Regions from separate parts of the Homo sapiens genome. Here all the other regions are reported to be linked to region 7. The links are microRNA targets in miRTarBase. Many come from high-throughput screens and were not tested one by one. Region 7 holds a microRNA gene; each other region holds the end of a gene's coding sequence. Distances are between the middles of the regions.

Region 1 (4,057 bases), not on the chromosome of region 7:
TCTCTCTTCCCTCACATCCTGCCCACAGGTCTCCTCTCTGGGAGTCACGACTTTCAGCCTCTGTGCCCTGGGCATTGACCGCTTCCACGTGGCCACCAGCACCCTGCCCAAGGTGAGGCCCATCGAGCGGTGCCAATCCATCCTGGCCAAGTTGGCTGTCATCTGGGTGGGCTCCATGACGCTGGCTGTGCCTGAGCTCCTGCTGTGGCAGCTGGCACAGGAGCCTGCCCCCACCATGGGCACCCTGGACTCATGCATCATGAAACCCTCAGCCAGCCTGCCCGAGTCCCTGTATTCACTGGTGATGACCTACCAGAACGCCCGCATGTGGTGGTACTTTGGCTGCTACTTCTGCCTGCCCATCCTCTTCACAGTCACCTGCCAGCTGGTGACATGGCGGGTGCGAGGCCCTCCAGGGAGGAAGTCAGAGTGCAGGGCCAGCAAGCACGAGCAGTGTGAGAGCCAGCTCAACAGCACCGTGGTGGGCCTGACCGTGGTCTACGCCTTCTGCACCCTCCCAGAGAACGTCTGCAACATCGTGGTGGCCTACCTCTCCACCGAGCTGACCCGCCAGACCCTGGACCTCCTGGGCCTCATCAACCAGTTCTCCACCTTCTTCAAGGGCGCCATCACCCCAGTGCTGCTCCTTTGCATCTGCAGGCCGCTGGGCCAGGCCTTCCTGGACTGCTGCTGCTGCTGCTGCTGTGAGGAGTGCGGCGGGGCTTCGGAGGCCTCTGCTGCCAATGGGTCGGACAACAAGCTCAAGACCGAGGTGTCCTCTTCCATCTACTTCCACAAGCCCAGGGAGTCACCCCCACTCCTGCCCCTGGGCACACCTTGCTGAGGCCCCAGTAGGGGTGGGGAGGGAGGGAGAGGCCGCCACCCCCGCCGGTGTCTGCTGTTCTTTCCCCATAGGTCTTGCTTTGTTGCCTGTCTTGCTGTCTAGGGATGGACTTGGTTCCTCTTGTCAAGGTTTGGGAATGTCAAAGCCCCCTCCCCACACAGGGCCTTTCCTGTCCCTTGTGGGGCCTTCCAACCCTGTCCTTTCCACTGGTGGGCGGTGATGCTTCTAGGTCCTTAGAACTGCCCAGAAACTCTGAGTCCCAGCAGCTGGGAGCCAGAACTTTGCCTGCCCTCCCTTGGTTCCAGTCTCTCTTCTCTCTCTCTGCCTTGGAACCTGACCATACTTTAGTTGTGCCCTTCCCAGGCATCATCCTCCTACCACCAACCTGGGGCCCCATCTTGGAATGGGGGCTCCTTGGGGCCAGCCCAGTGTGGCTCACCACACTCTTCTTTTTTTTTTTTTTTTTTTTTGAGATGGAGTCTTGCTCTGTTGCCCAGGCTGGAGTACATTTGCCTGATGTCAGCTCCCTGCAACCTCCGCCTCCTGGGTTCAAGCGATTCTCCTGCCTCAGCCTCCTGAGTAGCTGGGATTACAGGTGTGCACCAACACACCCGGCTAATTTTTGTATTTGTAGAAGAGGCGGGGTTTCACCATGTTGGCCAGGCTGGTGTTGAACTCCTGACCTCAAGTGATCTGCCTGCCTTGGCCTCCCAAAGTGCTGGGATTACAGGTGTGAGCTGCCACGCCCAGCCCCAGTACACTCTTCTCTGGACCAGATCTGTCCCAGTCCTGGATGCCTCCTCCTACTGGTGCCTTCTTTTCTTCCAGAGGATTTCTCTCTCCTTCCTCCTCCTTTCTTTGGGATCCCTGGGTTGCCCTGTCCCAACCTCCTTGTTAGGTGCTTTCCCATAGGAGGCCCTTCTTGAGAAACAATAAACTAGGTAGAACTACCCCTATGCCCATCCACTTTCTTGTGCCACATTCTGGCAGGGCCCAGATGCAGCTGGGCCTTCCTGGCCTGGCAGTGCCTAGGAGAATTTCTCCTGACCTGGCCTGGCCTGTGGCTGATGTTCAGAACAGCCTTGTGGCCGATGTTCAGAACAGCCTTGTGGCCCTGGCGACTCCAAGGGTTTTATGGCTTTTGAGGGACAGAGAGGATGGAGGGCTTGGGGAGCCGGAGGACCTAAGTCCTCATCCTGGCCTAAACCCCATGCTCCTTGGGAAGTCAAAAGCCTGGAAAATATCTCCTCTGGAGCCTTCATCTCTGCTATGCCCTCTCTCCACAAAGCCCCCCTTGGAGGGAGTCCAGTGGTCTTTCCTCTGTGAGCCCCAGGGCTTCCCAGCCTTTGTCACTCTGAGAGCTGCTCTTGTTCAGTTTCTTAGAATGGACTGTTTTGCCTGTAGACGGCCCAGCTGCCTGCCCTGGCCTGCCCCCACCCAGCCCCCACTGCACCACCCTTCCCGCCAGAGCTCCCACTGCCCCCGGCAGACCCTTCATGCAGCTTCTCCTGTGGGGTCTTGCCCTTGAAGTGCCACTTCCCCCAGCCCCACCTCTGGTCCCTTCCAGAGGGCACCCTTAGCCTTGTAGGTCCCTGGGAAGCTGGCACAGCATCAACCAGAAGTGATGCCTCAGCCAGGCCACCAGTCGCTCCCCGCCTGGGAGCTCAGCTTTCCTCAGAACCACCCCCCCTGTCTGAAGCTCTGTCCTGGGTCCCACCAGACTTCTGCCCACCAGGCCTACCTACAGCATCCACATGGGGCCTCAGGAAGGGCCCCGGGGGCCCAGGGATGGGCAGGGGCAGGGTTTCCAAGCGCCTGGGGCTCCATTCTCCTCTGTCCACCCACCCACACCCCTTGGCCTCAGCCTGCCCTGTACCCAAGCTTCCCTCCCCCTCTCCTGGGGATCTTAACGGCCTTGTTCTCTCTCCCTGGCACCCACCCCCAGGGCGGGTGATGCCGCCAAGAGAGAGGGAGGCCGTTGCTAGGTGATGGCGCCGCCATGCACACACCCTTTGTGCTGGGGAGTGACACCCACCCGTTTCTCAGCAGACCTGTTGCCACGGTGACTGAAGCCCCCAGCTCTGTCTGTAGAAACTTCAGATGGGTGGGGGAGCAGGTTGGAGAGGGGACCAAAGGCAGGCCTGTCGTGCTGAAGCTCTTGGGGACCGTTTCCTCGGCATTTCCCCAACTCCTTCTCCACCCCCCTGCCAGGCCCGGAAGTACCACCAGCTTCCTAAGGGATGCAGGAAGGGGCCGGGTGAACTGAGGTGAAGTCCAGGGCAGGGGAGTCAGACCCCTCAACATCCTGTTTAGGGGTCCTCCTCCACAAAGGGTGCCCTCCACCTCTCCCTCCTGCTGGTTGGCCGGCTCAGAGATGAAGGGGGAGAGATGGTGGCTCCAAGGCTCTGCCACCGCCACCTCCCAAGCCTGCCAACGTGAATGGCTTGCAGAATCAGTCAGCAGGCCAGCGGCCTTGGGAAAGAGCCACTGTCCTCGCAGCCTGGGCCAGCTGGGGGAACAATGTAGGGTTTGTTGCTTAGGGGTCCCAGGCTTGCGGGGGGGTTGGCACATGGTGGGCAGTGGACTTGAGCTGGGATGGTCTGAGGGGGCACTGACACGCTCACCCGAGGGCAGACTTCAGACCAGCCCTCAGATCCTGATGCCAGGTTACAGGGCTGAGGGGAGCCTGAAATCCACTGGGTCTCCCTGCTCCACTTGGGAGTCACCTTCTCATCACCTATCCTGGAACTGAATGCAATTACTTAAACTCAGTCTCAGCTTCCTCATCTGTAAAATGGGAATAATCTGTCCTTCACAGAGGATTATGGTCATTTAATGAGACAAGATACATAAAGCACTTTGCATGGTGCCCCGAACCTTTTATTCCTTCCTCTCCTTTGGGAATTCAATTCTCTAGTGTTAGGAGCAGGCTTGGCCCAGGGATTCTTAAATGCATCCAGGTTTTGGCATCAAAGGGCCCCAAACATGACAATTTACCTATACTCATGGTCTGTTCCCATTCAACTTTAATAGGTTATGTGTGTTTTTTTTTTCTTAAGAGCTGGGTGGGGGGGTCTCACTATGTTGCCCAGGCTGGCTTTGAACTCCTGGGCTCAAGCAGTCCTCCTGTCTCAGCCTCCTGAGTAGCTGGGACTACAAGTGTGTACCACCATGCCTGGCTGAACACTTTTTTTTTTTTGAGACAAGATCCCA
Region 2 (4,066 bases), not on the chromosome of region 7:
ACAACACTGAGTATAAAGTTTCATAAATTTGAATTTAATTAATTAAAAATTTTAGGTAACTCACATAGGGCTAAGCTTAAATATATATTCTCTGACTTTAAAGCTTAAGGTTTTATCAATGACCGTCATTGGTTTGGATTTTAATAAACTCATTTTAAAACTTTTCAAGAATCAAAATGAAAATTAACAAATATTGATGTAATCATCATATACTACTATTATCTATTCATCAAGAGTAAAACCTACTTTCCAACAATCTAGTTCAAAAATAAAGTAAAAATAATTTCTCTCTCTTCACCCAGAGATAACCACTCCTAATATTTTTGGTTTATTTTCCTTAGTTTTTTTCAGTATGTACACATAAAATACATTTTCTAAAATGTGGATCATATTCTATGTATCACACAATTTGCGAGCCATTTCCAATTCAATAGATGAAATTTTTTGTCATATTCTTGATTGTCTGCTATTTCATTGTATAGGTGTGCCATAATTTATTTCATCAATCTCATGTTATTGGATTATTGGACTATATTTTTACTCTTTATTAGAAAATTGACAATACCTTTAGGATAAATTCTTAGAGAATTACTAGATCAAAGAATATGTGGTGTGTGTGTGTGCGTGTGTGTGTGTGTGTTTCCAATGTCCTCAGCATTACAGGGGTATTATTGTAATTTCTACTTCTTTGTTAATATGGTAAGTGAAAAATAGTATCTCTTTGTTTTAACTTACATTCTTCAAATATTAGAAAATTGGGATCTGGGTGCGGTGACTCACACCTGTAATCCCAGCACTTTCGGGGGGCGAGCTGGGCATATCGCTTGAGCTTAGGAGTTCCAGACCAGCCTAGGCAACATAGCGAAACCCCATCTCTACAAAAAATCCAAAAAAAAAAAAAAAAAAAAAAGCCCAGCATAGTGGCGCATGCTGTGATCCCAGCTACTTGGAAGGCTGAGGTGGGAGGATGGCTTGAGCCAGGGGAGTGGAAGCTGCAGTGAGCCGAGATCACACCACTGCACTCCAGACTAAGTGACAGAGTGAGACCCTGTCTAAAAAAAAAGAAAAATCGAAAAACAGTTTATGACCTATTGTAGTCATTTTGTGAATTGCTTTTTCATACCGTTAGTCCCTTCTGATATTACAGTCTTTCTCCTATTTTGAAAATAGCTTCACCAGTTTGTCTTTTGGCTTTGCTTAAGGGTTTTTATCATACAGAAGTATTTTGGGGATTTTGTTGTTGTTGTTTCATTGTATCAATCCTTTCCTATATAATTTCTTCTTTTAAGTTCTACTTAGAACGTTTTTTTCTTAACCCAAGGTTATACAAATACTTACCTATACATTCTGGTACAAAATATAAAGTACATATTCAAGTGTATATAAGAATTTAAAATAGCAATTCATTCAACCATTTATTCATTCATGCATATTCATTCACGTAAATTGAGCACATGTACACTAAGAACTGTTCTAAGTGGGGATAAAGCTGTGAACAAGACTACCAGGGTTCTTGCTCTCATAAAGTTATTATTCCAGAAGGAATATGACATAGCATATAATTTAATGTGAGCTTTCCAATCAATGAGGGAAAGAATGGATTATTCAGTATACAATGCTGTTACAACTAGTTAACCATTAGGAAAAGAAGTAAGATTATTTTATACCTAACATCAAGTGTATTACAAATGGATTTAAAAACTATATTTTAAAAATAAAACCATTTGAAAATAGTACAAAAAACATAAATGAATATTATATAAAGAAACAGGTACATTCCTAAACATGAAAACTTTACAGCAAGATTTCAAGGCAACTCTGGAAGTGACATTATTTTTAATGGAATAAAACAAGGTAATTTTTGAACAATAATCTTTATTAGTGTATTTTTAAAGGTACATATAATCCTGAGCTACAGCATTTATACATTTGTCATTTACTCTTTGAAGTGTACATGTATTTTGCTTCAAATTCTGTGATGAGTACGTTTTTATACTAATCAGTATCATAAATAATTTAAAATATTAGTCTTATCTCTGGAATCACCAATCAATTTACTCAGATGATCTCACTGTCTAATTCTACTACATTTAAAGACTGTAGAACATTTGTGATTAAGCAATTTCTTTTTCAAAACTGCAAAGATGGGCAGTGCGAGAGCTGATTCCATAAATTTCAATGAATTCTTAGAAAATTATGTTGTTCTTTATTTCTGATCTATTTTCTTGAATAATTTGGGTAATTATCTGATCAGTTACCTTTGAGAAGAATAGTAAAAGTACCTCTAATCTCAACATTTTAGCTACTGTAAAATGTCATAAGCTTCCTTCAAATATAAGTAGTACATAATTACCTCAATAAGAAAAATTTACCATGATCTAAGGGAAAGGGGCACAACCCAATGTAAATATATCTTTGGATAAATGGTTAAGTATTATAAAACATGTTATGTGAAATACTTCCTCAAGCCTCTATAAAGGAATACATAGAGCTGATAAACATTAAATTCCATAATCCAGACCAGATCTTTTATAAATGGTAAATAAAAAGGCAAAAATGAAAGACAAAAGTCCTGTGATCTTTGAGAAAAGACATTTATCCAACATCTCCAACTGTGGACAAATAAATATTCGTTCTTGTATTTTAAATTACTACCAAAATATTTTATCTTTCTACAAACAACAAAAAACAAGCAAACAGTATCTAGAAATTTTTTTTCCTCTGACAAGAATGTCAAGTCTTTGAAGTTACACTAAATTTTTTTTTTTTTCCTGAATAAGGTCACTATAATCTTAGGTTAAAGTTACAGTAAGCAGTTCAAGCAAAATGCATATTGCTTAGGTTTTAAGCAAGCAATTTTGATACTGTTTAATTAAAATGTAAATATAAATGTGAAACTATTATAGAAATATTTATAAACACTTAGGAATACTCATGTATCAGCAAGTAATGAAATAACTTATTTAAAAATAATAAAAGGGTGAGAGTAAATGTAATGTTTGGTAACAAATCCAAAAATATCTATAAGAGATGTAAAAGAACATGAAAAGGCTTTATTATTCAAATTTTGAAAACCTAGCAGCAAAACAATTTGCATATAATATAGTGCAATGAGCATTTGTTCATAAAAGACTCCCAAAGTCTTGAAACGATTATACATAAACCAGAATGGAATCCATTAGGATAAATAATTTAAAGATGTCCAGAGTAGCTTACCAAGAACTGCTAGACACTCTCACCTGCATTACTGAATCATAAACAAGCTTATGCAAAACTGTGTTCTGGATAACTGACTCTTATGGCTCCCCAATAACAAGCTCGGATAAGGCAGATCAATCCTAGGAGATAAGCAATTGCCCAAGAAACATAGGTTGCTCGAAATCGCCTTGCAAAATCTGGGGTGCCAACCTAAAATAAAAAGCAATATAAAAACAAAATATTAGAAACTTTAAAAAATATCTGCTTAGGGAACTTGTATCAGCTTACATGTGATTGTTATGAAATATACCCCCAGACCGAATACACAAAGTCCTTATAAGAGTAGGTGTATCTGTTGACTGCAACTGATAGACCATACTGCTACTTGTAGTAACTATAAATGTTATGAAGTAAACAAAAAAGCACACTAAACTATATTATCTCTACAAGGAATTTAATCCATGTAACTTCTTACTATCATGGGACACAATAGGACATTGCTAATAATAAGGGACTAGTTGTACTGACAAACAAAGGAGCATGGAAATGGCAGCCAAAGAGATTATCTTCCTCTTCTGGCATAATCCCCATGCTAACTGCTTAGCTCCAGTCTTCTCTAAAAACAAGCCATCCTCATATTGGTAATAAATCTCTGCTTGATTTGGATAAAGAGAAGAGTGGTTTTTTTAGATCTCTGTAGCTGAATGAATATTGCTTTGAATAATAAGAGACCCCATAGCCATAAAAATTAGTTCTGGCACTGATTTTTTTTTAAATGGGCTTTTGCTAAATAGATGATAAAATCCCCAACAGTAAGGACTTTTGGAGGTAAAAAGACACCGTTTCACTTGGATGGGCGAGTTCAATC
Region 3 (4,066 bases), not on the chromosome of region 7:
GATGTAAGGAATGTGGGAAGGCTTTCAGTTTTCGATCACATTGCATTGCACATCAGAGAATTCACAGTGGGGTGAAACCCTATGAATGTCAAGAATGTGCTAAGGCCTTTGTTTGGAAGTCAAACCTGATTCGTCACCAGAGAATACATACTGGAGAGAAACCCTTTGAATGTAAGGAATGTGGGAAGGGCTTTAGTCAGAACACAAGCCTTACGCAACATCAACGGATCCACACTGGTGAGAAACCATACACATGTAAGGAATGTGGGAAAAGCTTTACTCGAAACCCAGCCCTTCTTCGACATCAGAGAATGCACACTGGGGAGAAGCCTTACGAATGTAAGGACTGTGGGAAGGGCTTCATGTGGAACTCAGATCTTTCTCAGCACCAGAGGGTCCACACTGGGGACAAGCCTCATGAATGTACTGACTGTGGGAAAAGCTTCTTTTGCAAGGCACATCTTATTCGACATCAAAGAATCCATACTGGGGAAAGACCCTATAAATGTAATGACTGTGGGAAGGCCTTCAGTCAGAATTCTGTCTTAATTAAGCACCAGAGGCGCCATGCTAGAGACAAACCCTATAACTGTCAGATCTCTCACCTTCTTGAACATTAGAGAGTGCATAATGGTGATACTTGTTTATAATTCTTATGCTGCAGGAACCCTAGAGACAAAATGAGATGACCATTCACAATTTGCTGTAACCCTTAACTTAAATAGCCAGTATTATCTTGCCCTTTTGAACATTTACCATGTACTCTAGCAAGACTGGTCCCTCTGTTCTATGATGTTTTAACAAGGCATCATTTAGTTGGGCAGCTACTCTGTATCAGGTGCTAACCACTTTACATACATTAATTTGCATAACAATCCTATTAAGGTAGGTGCTCTTCTCCCCATTTTACAAATGAGAAATCTGAGTTGAAAGAGGTTATAAAACTCATTCAGGGTTGCTCAGTTAGTAAGTTATAGAGTTGAAATTGGAGCCAGGCCTATCTGACTGCAGAGTTTACTGTTCTTTACTTAATTGTACATATTTATGTCTCTGCCCATTTTTATTTGCTTATTTTCCTGTGCTTTTAGTTTCCCTTCATCACTCAGATCTAGCTCCTTCAACTAAGAAGATCTCTCTTCCTCTTCTACTTGTAATCAGTACCACCCAAGTTAGTATTTAATTATGTGCCATCTTATATTTTTCTAATAGTCTCATGTCTTTTAATCTTAACCCCAGCTAAATGACTCTGAGGACCAACAGTACATTTCTTTTATGTTTTTCAAATCCTGAAACATTAATCTTTGACTAGATATAACATGCTCATGATAAAAAAGAATTGAAATAGTTGAAAAGGGTGTTCAGTGAAAAGTAAATTTCCTTGTCATTCCTATCTCTTGAGTTCTCCCCAGAGGCAATCACTGCTACTGGTTGTGTATCTCTGTAGATACTCTTTGTATACAAGTGTTTATTAGTATTGCTTTTCATAATTCTGTCTCACTGAAAACCTTATTTGATGGAAGCAACATTGCAGTTAAATTGTGAACTCTAAGACCTTTTCTTCAGAAGTTGCTTTCCTTTTGAGGCCACCAAAGTAATTTAGGGAAACAGCAGAGGGTAATCCAGGTCTTTTTTTTTTTTTTTTTTTTTTTAGACAGAGTCTCACTCTGTTGCTCTGGCTGGAGTGCAGTGGTGCTATCTCAGCTCACTGCAAGCTCCACCTCCTGGGTTCATGCCATTCTTCTGCCTCAGCCTCCCAAGTAGCTGGGACTACAGGTGCCCGCCACCATGCCTGGCTAATATTTTTTATTTTTAGTAGAGACGGGGTTTCACCATGTTAGCCAGGCTGGTCTCGATCTCCTGACCTTGTGATCCACCTGTCTCGGCCTCCCAAAGTGCTGGGATTACAGGCCTCAGCTACCACGCCTGGCCAATCCAGGTCTTAAGAGACCTCATTGCCTTTGTTTTATGAGATATCATTCTGGGATTGGGAATATGTAAACTCAACTGGAGATTTTTTTTCATAAAAATTTATATAGTTCCAGCCCTCTCATTGCTTCCTATCCTAAATCCTCTTCCAGTCTGTCCATCCCTCACTACCATGATAGTCTACATTCTGATAAGCTGTGAGGCCACTGCCAAGGGAGGGAGAAATGGTCACTTTCTGGTGGTGGTTAATGCTTTGTTAGATAGCTTCATCCAGTCAATAGTTGAAAAGTTTTCACATAATCCAGTATTGGCATCAGAGCCAGAAATGCCCTCCCTAGGTCCAGGACCAAAGATAAAACAAACACGAGGAACATGTAGCGTCTACACAGGAAAGTAAAGAATTATAGAATTAACTAATTCTACTTGAAATCAGGAGTTTTATAAAACAACATTTTTAGACGTGGTCATCTTTTATTGGTTTCCATCATCTCTTCCCCTTCTCTCTGGGAACAGTTACCCGGGTATTCTTTGGGAAGCTATCCTTTCTCAGCTATGTGGTTTGGCACCACCACCATCTTCATGAGTGGACCCTGTTTGGCTTGTGTCAATCAGTTTATCCCATCCCCTTGGCCACAGAGCCATTGTGATATGAGGAGATACTGGCTCTTCTGGAAAAGAGAGGCTTTTCTTCATCGAGAGCTACCAGAGGAGATATTATCTGTCCTCTGTGTGGCACATAGGAAAATGTGAGACCTAGAATTATAGCAACTTTTTTTTTCTGTTAAAAGGGGAGATTCTCAAGCTTCCAGGTGCTACCATATGGAGCCTAAGGATAAAGCCAATACCAAAGAAAACAGTGACTAAACAGAGAGAAACTAGGTCCTTGGTGACATCTTTTGAGCCACTAGACCAAGCTTTACCTGAAGCAGAGCTACCTCAGAACTTTTCAGCTATGTGAGCCAATAAACATCTGTCAAACGAGTTAGAGTTGAGTTTTCTGTTATTTGCAACTTAGCCACACTAATACTGTTTTGTGTTTGAAATCACTGTTTTCTCATACAGCTCCTCAGTGTCACCTTTTCCTCTTGCTCAGTAGTCTCATAAGCTTCTCAGTTTTATCTCATCTCAGTTGCTTGGAAGTTGAGCATCTAAATAGGTGGCTTTTGCTGGGTGCAGTGGCTTACGCCTGTAATCCCATCACTTTGGGAGGCCAAGGTGGGCAGATCACCTGAGATTGGGAGTTCAAGACCAGCCTGACCAACATAGAGAGACCCCGTCTCTACTAAAAATACAAAATTAGCCAGGTGTGGTGGCACATGCCAGTAATCTCAGCTACTCAGGAGGCTGAGGCAGGAGAATTGCTTGAATCTGGGAGGTGGAGGTTGCAGTGAGCCGAGATTGTGCCATTGCACTCCAGCCTGGGCAACAAGAGTGAAACTCCATCTCAAAAAAATGAAAATAATAAATAGGTGGCTCTCATGACCTAAGGTTAATTTCATGCATACTACTAAGTGATGCTTTAAGTCATACCATTAGTGCAGGAATTTTTGCTCCTTAGTTCAGCTAAAATCTGGGTTCTTGTCTCATGACCAGGAAAAATTAGTCACAGGGACACATTGAAAAGTGAGGAGGGCAGAATTTATTAAGTGAAAAGGAAAACTCTCAACAAAAAGAGGGGTCCTGCATGCAGGTTTTCCATCTCACTAAACTGAATACCAGGCCACCACACATGAGCTGAAGAGCCTAGTCTTCTCCCCCTGCATGAATTCCTGGTGGCTACACCCCGTTCTCCCAGTGTGCAGGCAGGCCCTTAGTCTGAGCCACTCCACATTATTTCCCTTACTGTGTATGTGTTAAGGAACGGAATTTTTCATCATGGGCATGTTTAGGCAATCCCCCTGTGCACAATGACCTGGGCAGCATTTGGCTGTCTCCTGATTCTATCATTCCCCCCTCTAAAGAAGTACATCTAACTTAGAATAAGGATAAGGATAAGGGTAGTGATCGATCTTAACTGGTTCCTGCTGATGGGGGCACTGTTTTGGGAAAATAGCAGTGAGATCTCCCTCAGAGGCCTATCTAAGGGTCCCTGGTAAAAGGTGGCCATCATTTGAGGTTCCAATTGCATGAACATTCAGAG
Region 4 (4,053 bases), 4.3 Mb from region 7:
GAATCTAGAGGCCTGTCACCGGGTCTGTATGGCCGTGGGGTGCTGGGTGGGGGCTGCGGTGGCTCTCAGAGCACCGTGTTGTCCCCCTCCGCAAGTGCGACATGCAGAAGCTGACGGTGGATGAGCTGAAGCGGCTGCTCTACGACACCTTCTGCGAGCACCTGTCCATGAAGGACATAGAGAACATCATCATGACGGAGGAGGAGAGCCACCTGGGCACAGCCGAGGAGTGTCCCGTGGATGTGGAGAGTGAGTGGCTGGCCCTGGAACCCCACGGGTGGGCCCAGTGACTTGGCCAGGGGGACGCACGGGGTGGGGAGAGTCTGCAGAGGGGGGCTGGGGGCCTCCTTGCCTGTCCTAAGCCTCTGTCCCATTGGGGCACCCCATGGGATGAGCCCATGTGCCGAAGGGCAGGCGGCTCCTGACTCCATCGCTTTGATGTCCCCTTCTGTCTCCCCGGTGCTCCCGGCGGGCGGCCACAGCCTGCTCCAACCAGCAGATCCGCCAGACTTGCGTGCGCAAGAGTCTCATCTGCGCCTTCGCCATCGCCTTCATCATCAGTGTCATGCTCATTGCGGCCAACCAGGTGCTGCGCAGTGGCATGAAGTAGACGCCACCTGGATGCCCCATCCACCGCATGCGGTGCCCGTGGCCCGCCCCACACCACCGCCGCCTGCAGACCTCTCCCTTGGCCGGCTCCCTGGGCCGCCATCTGCGTGTACTTCAGGGCCTGGGTATCCAGCGAGCCCTCCCCACCCACCCACGGTCCTCACCTGGAGCTGTGGCCTGGCTGTGGAGGGCCGGGTGGTGGCTCTGAGGATGGTCCCCAGCCCCACCCTGTCCCCACCCTGGCCTGTAAGGAGCACTCACTCTTCCTACCATCCAGGGGCTCCTGGGAAATTAAGGAGGGATTTGCACAGGAACCCCCAGGACCCAGTCGCTGCTGTGGTCCCTTGGGCAGGAGCGGGCACCCTGTGCCTTGAGACAGCAGCCTATCTGGGGCCACACAGCCAACCCAGCCCTGGTCCCTGAGGTCTGCCCAGGGCACAGGGCACAGGCAGGGACAGAAAGCCTTCTCCTGGGGGAGGGTGGGAAGCCAGGGTGTCCTGGGCCTTGCTGCCTGGCATAGCCTGAGGAGGCCCCTGGTCTTCTCCTTGGGCCCCTTCCTCTGACCCTCGTTGGACCCCAACCCAGACCCCCTTTTCTCCATGTACCTGCTGGGCCAGCCCATTTCACAGGTGAGGAACCCGAGGCTCAGGGCCCCGAGACTTGGCCTCAGTTCTTCCTTCCACAGGGATTTTCAGGAAAGGCAGAAGCTCGTGGAGGATGGGCATCTGAGGTGGCCCTGCAGCCCCCCACCTTCTGGCCCTCCCACCAGAGGCCCAGCTACCAAGGCCACATTGTCCACCACCCCAGCCTAGAGCCTAGAACTGTAGTCCAGCTGAGGAAGGAGGCAGAGCTGGGGCCTGAAGGCTCTGAGCAGCCTCCAGCCAGGGGGCTCCTCCAGGGCTGAACTTTGGGAGGGCCCCTGTACTACCTCCTGGGCCAAGAAACTGGCACAGCCCCACACTGTCAGTGCCAAGAGGCTGCGCCAGGCCACTCTCTCAGCCCAGGGCCTGCCCTCCTGTCCTCCCACTTCTCTACGCCCTCAAGGTTGGAGACCCCGCTCCCATGCCCCAGCTGTGCCATCCCAAATACTTGGGCAGCAGCTCAGCATGGGCAGACATGGGGGCTGTGGATTCTTCCAGGGCGGGGATGGCAGATGGAGCCCTTGGGCTCCTTGGGCCTAGAGCCACTTCTTACCAGGCAACGGGCACAGCCACCCTGGCACACCCTCTGCCTGGCCGTGCTGAACCTCTGCTGGTCCCAAGGGAGAAGGGAGTGAGCGTGGGTCACCTGGGGAAAATCTCATCTGATTCCCTCCTTGCCCGACCTCTGCTAGGGGCTGGAGAACAGAGCTCAGAGCACCCAGTGTAGGGAAACACAGCCAGACCACTGTGGTGACAGACTTTCTTTATAAACATTTGGAAGTTTTCTCCCCCATCTTCTTAAGAAGCAGGGGGGCAGGTGGAGGAGAGTGAGGGGAGAGCTGCCCGGTGCAGACCCAGGACGAGGGCTGCACTTGGTGTGGCCGTGTCCTGAGCCTCAGTGAGGCTGGGCAGATGGTCTCGGAGCCTCCATGGGGCGTAGCAGGAACCGGGCTTGGCTTCCTATTGTGACTGATGAGAAAAGTGACCACGTGGGGGTCAGTCGGGGGCAAGGGGCTCAGCCCCACTGGACTCTGGGCTGCAGAGGCCACCCCCCAGGTGGGGGTGCCCGCAGGGATGGAGGCAGCTCCTGAACTGGTGGCCAGCCCACGGGGTACTGGAAGACAGTGGTTCTGATGGGTTCAGCCCTAGAGAGAGAGAGAGAAGCGGGGAGAATAAGAGTGCACTACAGCCCAGGCTTATGCCACCCCCAGCCCACCTGCCTCACCACCCTGGCTGTGGGGAGGGTCAGCTGCCTGCATGACTTTTCTGGAAGGCAGAGCCTCGAAAATAGGCAGACCGTTTGAGCCAGCGACCTCACCTCTAGGAACTGAGCCCAAGGAAATAGCGGGGTTGCAGGCAGACATTGAGCTGCGAGACAATGGGAATAACCTTCGTGTCCACCTGTGGGGGACTGATTCAATACATATGCACGTCCACAGCAGAGAATGCCATGCGGCCTGTGTAAGAATTAAGGCAGATTTATATGCACTGATGAGGAAAGACATACTGTGTGATAGGGAGAAAAAGCAGCTTATAAAATAATGTATATAGCATGATACTATTTTTGTTTAAAAATATATAAAATATATAAATGCATAAAAAAATCCTGGAAGACACAGCAAAATGTTAACAGTGGTCCTATCTGAGTGGTGCCATTATGGGTGACTTTTTTACTCCTTTATATTTCTCAAAAGTTTTACGAGCACACAAGCCTTTGAAATCAGAAAAAAACATTGTCTAAATTTTTTTTTAAAGCCTAATTTCTCATGCTACTCACTGTCCTCCTCCTCAACGTCCACCCCGAGCCACCTCCCCTGGAACTTGGGGTCCATGTAAGTACTTGCCCTAGGAGAGGCATCCTCCGTGCCCAGCCCGGGGCACCCTGCCAAGGCCCAGCGATGGCCCCCCAACCATTCTTCCACCTGTCCCATACTCAGATCCTTCTGGCCTTGGGCCCCACGCATGCTGCTTCTCCAGGGCCGCATGGCCCTTCTCAGGCTTCGAAGTACTTTGAACCTTTGAGCACTTTGAACTCCCATCACCCCAGCTGCCTATACAAGACCTTTCTGGAAGGCAGAGCCTCAAAAACATGCAGACCCTTTGAACCAGCAACCTCACCTCTAGGAACTGAGCCCAAGGAAATAGCAGGGTTGTGGGCAGCCATTGAGTTACAGCAATAGCCGTGAGACAATGGAAGTAGCCTTCATGTCCAGCTGTGGGGGACTGATTAAGTACACGTGCACATTGGCCGGGCGCAGTGACTCACGCCTGTAATCCCAGCGCTTTGGGAGGCCAAGGCGGGTGGATCACGAGATCAGGAGATCGAGACCATCCTGGCTAACATGGTGAAACCCCGTCTCTACTAAAAGTACAAAAAAAAATTAGCCGGGTGTGGTGGGGGGCACCTGTAGTCCCAGCTACTTGGGAGGCTGAGGCAGGAGAATGACGTGGACTAAGGAGGTGGAGCTTGCAGTGAGCCGAGATCGCGCCACTGCACTCCAGCCTGGGCGACAGAGCGAGACTCCTTCTCAAAAAAAAAAAAAAAAAAAAAAAGTACACATGCACATCCACATCCACAGCAGAGAGTGCCATGCAGCCGCCGCCAAAATTCAGGCAGGAGCTCATCTGTCTTCCACTTAGGACTGGAGTCCCCAGAGGATGTAGACCAGGGGATAGGGGTAAGGTGTATTTGTACCCCAAGGCGCAGGGCCAGGCCTGGTGCCAGGAGGCCACCCAGTGATTGTGGAACAAACAGCAATGCTGAAAGATCTTACTGACCAGGTGCTATTCTGGGCCACACACC
Region 5 (4,066 bases), not on the chromosome of region 7:
GCATCAGTATATGCTTGTGTTTTTGTTCGTGTACATGTATTTGCATGTGTAAGTGTTCATTGTGTGGGCCCATATGTAACTGTCTGGTGCGTGTGTGTGTGCATGTGTGTGCCTGTACCTGGAGAAAGGGGCAGAGGGCTTGGTTCTACTGCGGTTTCTCATTCTGTAGCCTCACTCTGCTGCCTTCACTGAAGGACACCTCTGGGTCTAAGCGTCCTATCTGGGTAGGGGCTGGGGGCGGTCCCTGGACACCATGGAGCATGAGCAGTAGGTGACTTGGCACACCTATGGGGGCTCTTCCTGCCACAGATTTAATCTTCTCTTTCTCTCCTCCTAACCTTTCTCCCTTCTCTTCCTCTTCCTCTCTTCCTTATTCTTTCCTTTTCTCCTGCCTCCCTCCCCTCCTCTTCCTCTCTTTCACCCCTCCTCCCCTCCCCTCTCTCCCCAACCTGTATCTCCCTGTCACAACCCTGTTTGAGGAAGGGGTGAGTCCTCTCCTCCCCCTAGCTTCGCTTCCCCCATATTGCTCTGGTGCAAGTTCTAAGTGAGCCCTTCTGTAAAGTTCACACATGCCCAGAAAGCATTCAGGGACCCGCCAGAGATGAGGTCCACCTTGCAAATTCTCTCTTGGCCTCTAAAATCCGTTACAGTTAGGGCACCATAGAGAAGTAGAAACACAACCCAATACATGGGTTTGAATCTCAGCTTTGCCACTTCCCAGCTGTGTGACTTTGGGCCAGTCCCTCAACCTCTCTGAGTACCCTGAGGGGGCCAATAATACCTACCCTGATACACGTCCAAGGATTCAGCTGCAAGGATATTCTGATGTGGTTTAAAGTGGTGAAACGTTGGAAACAAACCCAAATATCCAATAATAGACTTGGTTAAAAATAAAACAAAAACCATAAAAGGATGGCTCAGCCATTGAAGAGAACTTTAAGCAGTGACTACACAGAATGACATAGCTCTGTCTATGAAGATCAGTTTATACATCTGGAAGCTATTGCTGAGTGAACCAGAGCAGATGACCACATATTGAGTATAGGGTATGATCTCTAGTTTCAAAATGAAAAAACAAAACAAAACAAAACAAACAAACAAAAAAACAAACAAAAAAACAAGAAAAGAAAAAAGAAGTCTGAAAGAAAATGCATCATCTAGATTTCCATAGTGCTTGAGATTCTGGGTGGTGACATTTTCTTCCTTTTGTTTATCTGAGATTTCTAAATTTTCCACAAGCAAGTAGCATTGGTCTGATAAAGATGAATGTGCAGTAAGGAAAGAAAAGAAAAAGGCAAGGCACATTGCATGATTCTTGTGAGGAACACATAAAGAAGAAGGGCAGAAGAGTGGGGCTCTGAGCGTGCGCCTGTCCCATGGCGGTCTGTTCCCCACCTTCCCCTGCTGCAGCTACAATGGGCCGCTTCACTCACCCCGAGCTTGGGTGAAAAGTGATCCCAATGCAGGACACTCTTCTATTTATTTTTACCTCCCTCTCCTGCTTTTCTTTTCTTTTTCTTTTATCCTTTCTTCCTTCCTTCCTTCCTTCCTTTCTTTTTCTTTTTTCCCTTCTTTCTTTTTCTCTTTCTTTCTCTTTCTTTCTTTCTTTCTTTCTTTCTTTCTTTCTTTCTTTCTTTCTTTCTTTCTTTCCTTTCTTTCTCTCTTTTTTTGAGACAGTCTTGCTCTGTCGTCCAGGCTGGAGTGCAGTAATGTAGTACCAGCTTACTGCAACCTCCGCTTCCCGGGTTCAGGCGATTCTCCTGCCTCAGCCTCCCAAGTATCTGGGATTACAGGTGCCTGCCACCATGCCTGGCTAATTTTTGTATTTTTAGTAGAGAGAGGGTTTCACCATGTTGGCCAGGCTGGTCTTGAACTCCTGATCTCAGGTGATCCACCCACCTCAGCTTCCCAAAGTGCTGGGATTACAGACATTCGAGTTGGAAGGGAATGTAGGAAGCACTCTCTCCAACCCCTGCTTTTGCAAGTAGGGAAACTGAGTCAAAGAAGGAGAGTGACTTGTTTTAGGTAGTGGCCTCAGGCCTCCTAAATCTCACTGGACACTCTTTCCCTCATGCCTTTACCTAAAGACAAGCATGCACTGCATAAGATTTGCAGAGCACAACAGCCTCACTTTGGGGAGGAGGCGCACTTCAGTCCTAACATAGCCTTGCAGATAACCAGCATCAGCTTACCAGCCTGCTCTTTTTTTGGGCCACCAGAAATTACATGGGGGAATAGTTAGGAGTGAAGTTCTAATTCTTTTGATGTGCTGGCAACAAACAAATCACACATTCATTCATTCATCAAACATTCTGAAGACCTACTATATGCTGGGCAGGCCTGTGTTAGAGCAGGGTATTACATAAAGCATGGGGAGATACGGTGCCTGGCACGTAGTAGCTGTCGAAAGAGGACAGTCACTTTCATGAACCTGGGAGTCACTAGAAGAGCTCCCCCTTTGGGTGAGCAGAGGTTTTTGCACCCATCAAGGGTTTAATGTCAGAGACCAGAACCAGGGAAAGGAATGGTTTCATTCTCTCTGAGTCGTTATCAAGGTAGGGACAAAAAAAGAAAACCACACAGCGCTGAGGGAAAAAAGATTTTTTTTTATTAATCTTTCTCTTTAAAAAAAGTTGATTTTTTTTGTTTTTGTTTTTTGTTTTTTTTAGGTAAACCTCTTTCTGCTTCCCCTCCGTCACTCTGCCCTACCTCCTCTTAAAAATATAAAAATGTCCAACCCCGGATAACTAGAGTACAATAAATAAACAGTAAACACAAAAACATACTTTATTTGTTTCTTCTTTATACAAAATAAGGAAACTAGAAGCGTTCAACTTCCAAAAAAGTATAATATTGTACATCCTGACGGCCCAGCCTCCAGGCCCTGGGCAGGGAGGGTGGTCTGTGGGTCTGAGCCCAGCAATCCTGGCGCCCCACCCAGGGGGAGAGCAGGATGTGTGCGTGTTCGAGTCCGGCCTGCTCCCTCGGGCTCAACATAAACGTCAAAGTAAGGAAGAGCGGGAGCTGGACCCGGCTGGCCACTTCCTGACCCACAGCCCTATTCCTAGAGAAGCTGACCTTGAGCCTCAAGATTGGCCACCAGGGAGCGCCAGCGTGCAGGTGGCTCGGTCTCCCTCTCGGTGGCTCCCGGTTCACGCGAGTTCCTCGCTCGCTCTCCGTCTTCTCCCTCTGGCTGACGCTGTCTCTCCATCTCCTCCTCATCTTGCCCCCTTTCCTCTCCCTCTCTTTCAATCTCTCTCCTTTTCTTATCATCTTTTTTTTTAAAGACGGGGAAAGCACAGCGAGAAATAAGATTACAAAATGCCACTCGGATTGCAGAGAGAGGGAAAAACACCGTCTCCGCCCCTTGGCCTCACCCTCTCTCAGTCCAAAGAGGTGGCGGTGGCTGGGTGGGTGGGTGGGGGCCCGGGGAAAGTCTAGAGCGTGCTCGAAATCTCTTGACCCTCCGGAGTATTGACTTTGGTCCCAAGAAATTGCTCGCGGTTGCTGGGAGAGTACTGGCGGTGGGCTGAGGCTCCTGGAGAGCCCGCGGGGTGGAGATGGGGGTCGGCCCCCCCTCGGCGCCCAGCCGAGGAGCAGCTGCCAGTTGAGTGCGGACCCGAGAGAGAACCCCCGAGGGACACCCACGTCTCCCACCGCGTCTGCGTCGGGCGTTTTGGTTTCAGGAGGCTGCTTCGGGGCGGGGCCCCCGGGGGCCGAGCGCGGGGGGCGGCCCGGCGGCCTTACCACACGGCGGCTTCGTTGAGCTCGGGGTTGGGATGCGACAGGGGTCCGCTGTAGCCGCTGGTGCCGCTCATTGGGAAGGGCGGGCTGGGCCCGCCGCTGAATACCTCGCCGGGCATGGGGTGCAGCGTGCCCGGCAGGCCTGGCTCGGGGCTCGGTGTGTCCGGGTGCGAGATCATGTCGGTGAACCTGGGGTTGTCCGCGGCGTGCGGGCCGGCGAGCGGCGGTTCCAGCGCTCCCAGCGGCGTCGAGCCGGGGCCAGAGGCCGCCAGGAAGCTGGAGTCGGCCGGGGACTGCGCCTGCGAAGGCGGGCCGTGCGCGA
Region 6 (4,061 bases), not on the chromosome of region 7:
TGTAGATATACTTCAAATCATCATGCTTTACAGAACACACATTTCATCTGTCCAGTTAAGAAATGTATTTTTAAAACATTATAGAAGGATAACAATGTTTCAAATATTGTGTCTTCATCATTAATTTTGCTGAATAGTATCCAAAATATATGGTTTTTGTGCTGTTTTTTTCGCATTATTTTTCAGCCACAACACAACCATAGGTACTCTGATATTTAACAGCATGTTCTGGACACAGCACAGTGTATGAGAGGAGCCAATGTAGTTTAGGGCTTCTAAGCTTGGGGCACCTGGAGTTTCTGGTGCTGATGGTAATGGTATGATAGACAGTAAATGGGCAGGTGATGTTTATTGTCCCATGACTGTGAACACAGTAAACAAGCTTGCATGCAAAATAATAGGAAATGTTTTAATCCACAAGTTGCCAAAATTTCCAAAATTCTTCAGAGAAAATGACCAAGGAGTTGGCTATACTTAGATGACTCAGAATAAAAACTGTAGATTGGGCCAGGTGCGGGGGCTCACGCCTGTTATCAGCATTTTGGGAAGCTGAGGCAGGTGGATCATGAGGTCAGCAGTTCGAGACCAGCCTGCCCAATATGGGGAAACCCTGGTCTCTACTAAAAATACAAAAATTAGCTGGGTGTGGTGGCGCATGCCTGTAATCCTAGCTACCTGGAAGGCTGAGGCAGGAGAATCACTTGAACCTGGGAGGCGGAGGTTGCAGTGAGCCGAGGTTGGGCCACTGCACTCCAGCCTGGGCAACAGAGCAAAACTCTTTCTCAAAAACAAAAAAAAACTGTAGACTGAACTTCACCCACTGAAAAAAAGTTATATGAACTGGAAATTTCTTCAAATTGTAATATCAGTATGGAAAAGAAATATTATCTCAAATTTCAAATTCACAGAGGTCACTTTATTATTTTGCCATGTTTAACATTCACTCTTAAAGTAGAAGATTCTGCATAGAAATTAAGTTACACTACATTACAGAAAAGTAAATTTAAAATTCTTTACTTACCATTAGAACTCCTAAAATTTTGATTTCTAAAATATATTCTCTAGCAAATTTTGTATTTGCTACACGTTGTATAAAAATCTAGGCCAGGCGCAGTGGCTCACGCCTGTAATCCCAGCACTTTGGAAGGCCGAGATGGGCGGATCATGAGGTCAGGAGATCGAGCCCCTCCTGGCTAACACGGTGAAACCCCGTCTCTACTAAAAATACAAAAAATTAGCTGGGCGTGTTGGCGGGCGCCTGTAGTCCCAGCTACTCAGGACACTGAGGAAGGAGAATGGCGTGAATGTGGGAGGCGGAGCTTGCAGTGAGCCGAGATCGTGCCACTGCACTCCAGCCTGGGGGACACAGCGAGACACTGTCTCAAAAAAAAAAAAAAAAATTAAACAGATTTCAACAAGAAAAAATAATAAAAATTTAACCTACGGAAACAGTATTTTTTAAACTTATTTGCAGTTGAAAGCCACTGGCAAAGGAGATTACCAGAGATGTTAGTTGATTACATTACCAAATAGTATATTCTTACTATCATTTACCTACACCTTTGAGTAAATGGGATAGGTTTCAGTTAGTGGCATAATAATGCTTCATTGAATGCACAATAGTATTAACATGTTAAAAATGTATAATGAAACAAGTTCACACATCATCTGAAAATTTAAAAATGTACTGCATTTTATTACATAAAAGTACAAATAGTAAAATAACGTACTAATTTTTTAATTTTAACAAAACTTAAATGTTCTTACTATAATGCAAAAGAATATTACTCTAAACACCTACCTCATGCACCACTCAATATCATAATTAACCACAAATACCATCTCCACTTAGATTTTCATCATGCATGTTACATTTTAATGTCCTTACTCTTCCAAAGAAAAGGTCATAAATAATGCCCACCTAAAAAAAAAGAAACTCTCCTATCTTTGATGCCGTGACAACTGATCACATGCTTTCACATGTGAATACAATAGAAATGAAGAAATAGCATCAAGTAACTAGAGAGTTGAATCACAGCAATATTAGCTTTTTAAAAAATCTGTACTTCTTTTCAAGGAAAAAAGAACACTTTGGGCCGGGCGCTGTGGCTTAAGCCTGTAATCACAGCACTTTGGGAAGCCAAGCTGGGCAGAGCATGAGGTCAGGAGTTCAAGACTACCCTGACCAATATGGTGAAACCCCGTCCCTACTAAAAATACAAAAGTCAGCCGGACGTGGTGGTGTGCACCTGTAATCTCAGCTACTCAGTAGGCTGAGGCAGGAGAATTGCTTGAACCCAGGAGGCAGAGGTTGCAGCGAGCTGAGATTGTGCCACTGCACTCCAGCCTGGACGACAGAGAGAGACTCTGTCTCAAGGAAAACAAACAAACAAAAAAAGTATACTTTGAATGTAATTACAAACTTCCAAAAAATCTTCTACTCCTTTTAAAGTTATGTACAAATAAATTTATCTACCGTTAGTTTGGGATCATTTTTAACAGTCAGCACTTTGATATAGTGTAATGTCTGAAGCATCCATACCTTAGTTTGTTTGTTTTTGAGATGGAGTCTCACTCTGTCACCCGGCTGGAGTGCAGTGGTGCAATCTCGGCTCACTACAACCTCTGCCTCCTGGGTTCAACGGATTTTCCTGCCTCAGCGTCCCAAGTAGCTGAGACTACAGGCACGTGCCGCCACGCCCAGCTAATTTTTGTATTTTTAGTAGAGACAGGGTTTTACCATGTTGACCAGGATGGTCTCAATCTGTTGACCTCATGATCTGCCCACCTCAGCCTCCCAAAGTGCTGGCATTACAGGCGTGAGCCACCATGCCCGGCCCTACCTTAGATATTTCCACTGTGAATTCTCTGATATTTACATAGACTTATTTTGGATTAAATGTTTTAAATATATACTGCATCTGCAAAAATATATCTCAGTATGAACCCTCTGGTGTTGTCTAAGTTGTAGTTTTGGAAAACTTTTTTTTCAAATTTATTACATTTGCAGGGTTTTTCTCCAATCTGAATTCCCTGATGTTGAACAAAGTTTAAGTAACTGCTTCAGGGTTTTCTCTAGTACAAAATGTGTACAATAAGATCTGTGATACAAATAAAGGTATTACAATCCTCTTTTATTTGTAATGTTTGTCTTCAAAATAAATACTTTAAAAGCTTATATTTTCTGAAATACTTTTTGACAGTAATTAAATTTATAATACTTTTTTTAAGTACTCTCTGATGTTGAGTAAGATGTGAGCAGACATTAATGGCTTTTTCACAGTCTTTATATTGGTACAATTTTTCTCAAGTATAAATGCTTTCCTGGCAATAAGGTGTGAGTATTCATTAAAAATTTTGCCACATTCTTCACACTTGTAAGAGTTTTTCTAGTAAGAATTATCTTACCTACAATCAAGTGTGACAATCATTTAAAGATTTTGTCACATTTTTCGCATTTTTAAAGTTCCTCACCAGTATGATTTATTTTATGTTTAGAAAAGTTTGAGGTGTTGTCAGAATTACTGTGATGTCTTCCAGCTTTGTAGTTTCTCTCCAGTTTAAGTTTTTTTATGTTTAGTAAGATTTAGGGACCAGTTAAATGCTTTGCCACATTCTTTACATTTGTAGGGTTTCTCTCTAGTATGAATTATCTTTTGTTTCATAAGGATTAAGAGCCAGTTAAAGGCTTTGCCACATTTATCACATTTGTAGGATTTCTCTCCAGTATGAATTATCTTGTGTTTTAATAAAAGTTGAAAATACACTAAAGGATTTGACACATTATTTACATTTGTAGGGTTTCTCTTTGGTATGAATTCTCTTATGTTTAGTAAGGTTTGGGGACTGGTTAAAGGCTTTGCCACATTCTTCACATTTGTAGGGTTTCTCTCCAGTATGAATTATCTTATGTTTCATAAGGGTTGAGGACTGGTTAAAAGCTTTGCCACATTCTTTACATTTGTAGGGTTTCTCTCCAGTATGAATTATCTTATGTGTAGTAAGATGAGAGGACAGAATAAAGCTTTTGCCACATTCTTCACACTTATAGGGTTTCTCTC
Region 7 (4,066 bases):
TAATTTTTTTGTACTTTCTGTAGAGGTAGGGTTTTGCCATGCTGCCCAGGCTTCTCTCGAACTCCCAGGCTCAAGTGATCTGCCTGCCTTAGCCTCCCAAAGTGCTGTGATTACAGGCGGGAGCCACTGTGCCCAGGGCAACCCTGTTTTTTTTTTTTTTTTTTTAAATCAACTTTTATTTTGATTAAATTGCAGCTTAGTTACATGTGAACCTTTGATGACACTGAGGCTTGTGGCCACTGACCCCGTCACCCAGGCAGTGAGCAAAGTGCCCGTCAGGTGGTTCTTCCGCCCACACTCCCTTTCTGCCTCCTTTTTTCCATCTGATAGTCCCCAGTGTCTATTGTTTCCATCTTTATGTTCGAGTGTATTCACTGTTTAGCTCCCACTCATAAGTGAGAACATGCAGTATTTGGTTTTCTGTTCTTGCCTTGGTTTGCTAAACATAATAATCCCCAGGTCTATCCATGCTGCTTAGGACATGATTGTGTGTTTTACTTATGGCTGCGTAGTATTTTTTGGTGTGTATGCGCCACATTAAAAAATCAAATCCACTGTTGCTGGTCATCTAGGATGCTTCCACATCTTTGTTCTTGTGAATGGCACGACCATGAATGCACGAGAGCATGTGTCTTTTTGATAGAAGGATTTATTGTCTTTTGGGTAGATACTAAGTAGTGGAATTGCTGGGTCTGATGGTAGTTCTGTTTTAAGTTCTTTGAGAATCTCTACACTGCTTTCCACAGTGTGAACCTGTTTTCACGTTCCCCAAGGTAGGAGCGTTCCCTTTCCTTTCCTGCCTCGCCAGCATGTTGTTTTGCTTTTGGAAAAATGGCCATTCTGACCAGCGTGAGATGGTATCTCATTGTGTTTGTGAGTTGCATTTCACTGATGATTAGTGAGGTAGTGCATTTTTTCATGTCAGTTGGTCACTTGAACGTCTTCTTTTTCTTTATTTTTATTTTTTATTTTTTGAGACAGTGTCTCACTCTGTTGCCCAGACTGGAGTGCAGTGGCGTGATCTTGGCTCACTGCAACCTCCGCCTCCCAGGTTCAAGTGATTCTTCTGCCTCAGCCTCCTGAGTAGCTGGGATTACAGGTGCCTGCCACTATGCCTAGCTAATTTTTGTGTATTTTAGTAGAGACGGGGTTTCACCATGTTGGCCAGGCTGGTCTTGAAGTCCTGACCTCGTGATTTGCCCGCCTCGGCCTCTCAAAGTGCTGGGATTAAAGGCATGAGCCACCATGCCTGACCAATTTTTTGTATTTTTAGTAGAGATAGAGTTTCACTGGTCTCGAACTCCTGATCTCAGGTGATCTGCCCACCTCAGCTTCCCAGAGTGCTGGGATTATAGGCATAAGCCACAGTGCCCAGCCCCTTGACAACTGTTTTGTAAGGAACCATTGCCTGAAGTAGAATTGCTGGATCAAGACTACTTTTCCAAAAGAGGATAATAAACATGATCTCCTCTTTTGTTAATGACTTAGATCATTCCTCTGAAAAGCCATTATTGCACATTGCTGAAATGTTCGCCTCTGCACTGGTTGGTCCCAGAATGCTAATCATTTTGAGATTTGTGCCTTCTTTCTTCTATTTTCTGCTTTCTTCTATTAGCCATGCCCGACCTGAAAGCCATCCCTTCCTCTTTAATGTACTATTTTTCTTCTAATGTGGATCTACAAAAACAGAGTTTGGGCAGAGTCTAACAACAGGAACAAGAGAAGAAACAGATCCAAAGAGAGGGGCTTTGGGCCCAGAGATGTTCTAGAGTCAGTTCTCAGTGGTGAAGGCTGACTGTGCATCTCTCTTCCTAACTTCACTTGCAGCCGTGTCGTATTGATAGCTTGAAATCTGCCACAGTGGGAGCATTTACACCATGGAAATTGGCAAACGCTGCAAATCAAGAGTGTTAATTTTCGTTTTGTTTTTTGAGAGTTGGCTATTAACTTACCAGCATACTATTGGCTTTAGTGCATGGCGTCTATATATTGGTATTTGTTGCTGGGCCGTTATTTAGACTGCCTTCTTATTTCTTAACTGTGTTCCAGGTGGGTAAAGGCAGCATAGCACTGAGTTCTAGATAACTGAGGGGATTTTGCACTTGGATTTGCTGTGCTAAGGTTTGGGTGGGGCTATTACATCTTGCCGGGCTGGGCAAGAGTGAACCCTAGGGGTCAACATCAGTAGCCAGGATTCTGCCATAGGAAGCTTGGAGTGGAACTGACCTGCCCCCTTTCTCTCTGACTCCATGGCAGCTGGGTGAGCTATGAACAGGCCAACTGCAAGGGCGAGCAGTTTGTGTTTGAGAAGGGCGAGTACGCCCACTGGGACTGGTGGACCAGCAGCCAGAGGACAGACTCAGCAGCCTGAGGCCCATCAAAGTGGTGAGCCCCCTGCCATCATCCTACTTTCTCTCTCTGCCACCTTGGAGCAGGAGGTCCTGGGACCAGGAAGGAGCCCGCCCCTCTAGCATTGTGCCCCTTCTGATTGGTGAGGAACCTCCTCACTGGGTGACCTTGCAAAAGTCATTTTACTTCCCTGAGCCTCAGTTTCTTCATCTGTAAAATGGGCATATTGGTATCTACTGTCCTGAGGTTCCAATGTGCTTATTAGCTTGAGGGTTGTCACACTGCAACTCCAGAAGGCTCCAATCACAAGACTATGAAATGCTCCAGAGGGCACTATTCACATTCTATTTTAGGTGGTTGGTGCCCGCCCCCCGCGCCCAAGGGTTGGGCAACTCCCGTCATTGCTCAATAACCAATAGCCATCAGAAATACTACAAGAAATTATGAGTTTGGGGCTGGAGGAGAAGGTGGTTTAGCTCTTCTTCAAGACTCGTGCCAGTGTGAGTTTTCAGTGCTTCTGAGATCCTGATTCTTACTAGTGTGTGAGAGTGTCAACTCTCAGGAAGGGGACAGGGCCCATCACTGCTCAGTTACACTCTCAAACCCTCCAAGCCCAGTCTAGCTCCTCCCAGGACCTACTGGAAGGTTGGAGAACACTGGACTTTGCACCCCACAGACCTGGGTTCCCAAGTTGGCTGTGCTGCTCCCAGCTGTGTGGCCTTGAGCACGTCATTTGACCTCTCTGTGCCGCACTTTCCTCATCTGCTAAATGGCATAAGAGGATTTTATGTCTGAGGGATAAGGGTTTTATGTGTAAAGGATGAGATGAGATAACTAAGGAAAATGTCATAGGGACAGGAGGATGGGAAGAGATGTAGAAATGAAGAAAAATCAAAGTATCTCAGGTGCCTATTAGAGGCACAGTTAGCCTGTGCATGTGTGTGTGTACATGTGTGGGTGTGCATGTGTGTGCACGTGTGTGTGTGCAAGTGTGCACGTGTGTGCACACATGTGTGGGTGTGCATGTGTGTGTACATGTGTGGGTGTGCACGTGTGCGCGCGCGTGTGTGTGTGCAAGTGTGCGTGTGTGCCTGTATGTGTGCACGCTTGTGTGGGTGTGCGTGTGTGTGTATGTGTGGGTGTTCATATGTGGGTGGGTAGGTAGATCGTAGCCACCATTTATAAAAGAGAAACTTGAGGAGGAAAAAATGACATTTCAGAATCAAACATTCCCCAAAGTGTTGCAGAGTGTCTGTTACATGAAAATGGCCCAGTAGAAACTTAACAAACGGCTGTGATCCAACAGCAGTGGTCATAGACACGTAGTGGGTGCATTGGGAAGAGAGTGATGTGTGGGACATGCTGATCCCAACTCTGGGGCATGAGCATGGGGTGGGAAGGCCAACCCTGGGCCCCCTCACCCATACTCACTTCCCCCCATCCTCTGCCAATAGGACAGCCAAGAGCACAAGATCATCCTCTATGAAAACCCCAACTTCACCGGGAAGAAGATGGAAATCATAGATGACGATGTACCCAGCTTCCACGCCCATGGCTACCAGGAGAAGGTGTCATCTGTGTGGGTGCGGAGTGGCATGTAAGTGCATTGCCAGCCCTGGCTCACCCTGCCCCAGGAACTGAGACTCTGGGGTCCTAAGTCCTGCTCTGCCCTGTACACACTGGTGATCTTGCACACATCAATGTGCTCTGCTGACCT

What was found. Region 7 holds the annotated microRNA hsa-miR-6817-3p (UCUCUCUGACUCCAUGGCA, at 2,237-2,255, shown strand). A microRNA usually pairs through its seed, bases 2 to 8, with sites in the 3' UTR of a target mRNA and lowers its output. Matches are read on the target gene's strand: a 7mer-m8 pairs with bases 2 to 8, a 7mer-A1 pairs with bases 2 to 7 and ends in A, and an 8mer does both.
Region 1: the mRNA of GPR37L1 is a reported target of hsa-miR-6817-3p. Seed matches in the 3' UTR shown: 7mer-m8 at 1,994-2,000 and 7mer-A1 at 2,807-2,813.
Region 2: miRTarBase lists PIP4P2 as a target of hsa-miR-6817-3p. The part of its 3' UTR that is shown has no 7-base or 8-base seed match.
Region 3: miRTarBase lists ZNF662 as a target of hsa-miR-6817-3p. Seed matches in the 3' UTR shown: 8mer at 2,792-2,799 and 7mer-A1 at 3,191-3,197.
Region 4: miRTarBase lists CABP7 as a target of hsa-miR-6817-3p. Seed matches in the 3' UTR shown: 7mer-A1 at 2,398-2,404, 7mer-A1 at 2,400-2,406, 7mer-A1 at 2,402-2,408, 7mer-A1 at 2,404-2,410 and 7mer-A1 at 2,406-2,412.
Region 5: miRTarBase lists LHX5 as a target of hsa-miR-6817-3p. Seed matches in the 3' UTR shown: 7mer-A1 at 3,253-3,259.
Region 6: miRTarBase lists ZNF708 as a target of hsa-miR-6817-3p. Seed matches in the 3' UTR shown: 7mer-A1 at 3,635-3,641 and 7mer-m8 at 3,234-3,240.

The regions. Positions count from the first base shown.
Region 1 is chr1:202,127,713-202,131,769 of GRCh38, forward strand. It overlaps GPR37L1 (G protein-coupled receptor 37 like 1), which reads left to right. Exons shown (of 2, transcript NM_004767.5): 2 at 29-4,057. The coding sequence ends at 844. Among named protein-coding and RNA genes, the nearest start is that of GPR37L1, 6.8 kb to the left of the region's middle. RefSeq lists enhancers at 2,171-2,954, 2,955-3,738.
Region 2 is chr8:90,992,413-90,996,478 of GRCh38, forward strand. PIP4P2 (phosphatidylinositol-4,5-bisphosphate 4-phosphatase 2) reads right to left here. Exons shown (of 7, transcript NM_018710.3): 7 at 1,390-3,408. The coding sequence ends at 3,265. Among named protein-coding and RNA genes, the nearest start is that of C8orf88, 9.2 kb to the left of the region's middle.
Region 3 is chr3:42,914,735-42,918,800 of GRCh38, forward strand. ZNF662 (zinc finger protein 662) reads left to right here. Exons shown (of 5, transcript NM_207404.4): 5 at 1-4,066. The coding sequence ends at 620. Among named protein-coding and RNA genes, the nearest start is that of ZNF662, 11 kb to the left of the region's middle.
Region 4 is chr22:29,728,960-29,733,012 of GRCh38, forward strand. CABP7 (calcium binding protein 7) reads left to right here. Exons shown (of 5, transcript NM_182527.3): 4 at 96-249; 5 at 483-2,874. The coding sequence ends at 610. It overlaps ZMAT5 (zinc finger matrin-type 5), which reads right to left. Exons shown (of 6, transcript NM_001003692.2): 6 at 1,997-2,395. The coding sequence ends at 2,266. Among named protein-coding and RNA genes, the nearest start is that of CABP7, 11 kb to the left of the region's middle.
Region 5 is chr12:113,459,447-113,463,512 of GRCh38, forward strand. LHX5 (LIM homeobox 5) reads right to left here. Exons shown (of 5, transcript NM_022363.3): 5 at 2,587-4,066. The coding sequence ends at 3,744. Among named protein-coding and RNA genes, the nearest start is that of LHX5, 10 kb to the right of the region's middle.
Region 6 is chr19:21,289,491-21,293,551 of GRCh38, forward strand. It overlaps ZNF708 (zinc finger protein 708), which reads right to left. Exons shown (of 4, transcript NM_021269.3): 4 at 1,670-4,061. The coding sequence ends at 3,784. It also overlaps the pseudogene COX16P1 and the pseudogene VN1R83P. Among named protein-coding and RNA genes, the nearest start is that of ZNF708, 38 kb to the right of the region's middle.
Region 7 is chr22:25,453,456-25,457,521 of GRCh38, forward strand. It overlaps MIR6817 (microRNA 6817), which reads left to right and starts at 2,191; the gene lies at 2,191-2,256. It also overlaps the pseudogene CRYBB2P1. RefSeq lists an enhancer at 2,258-2,361.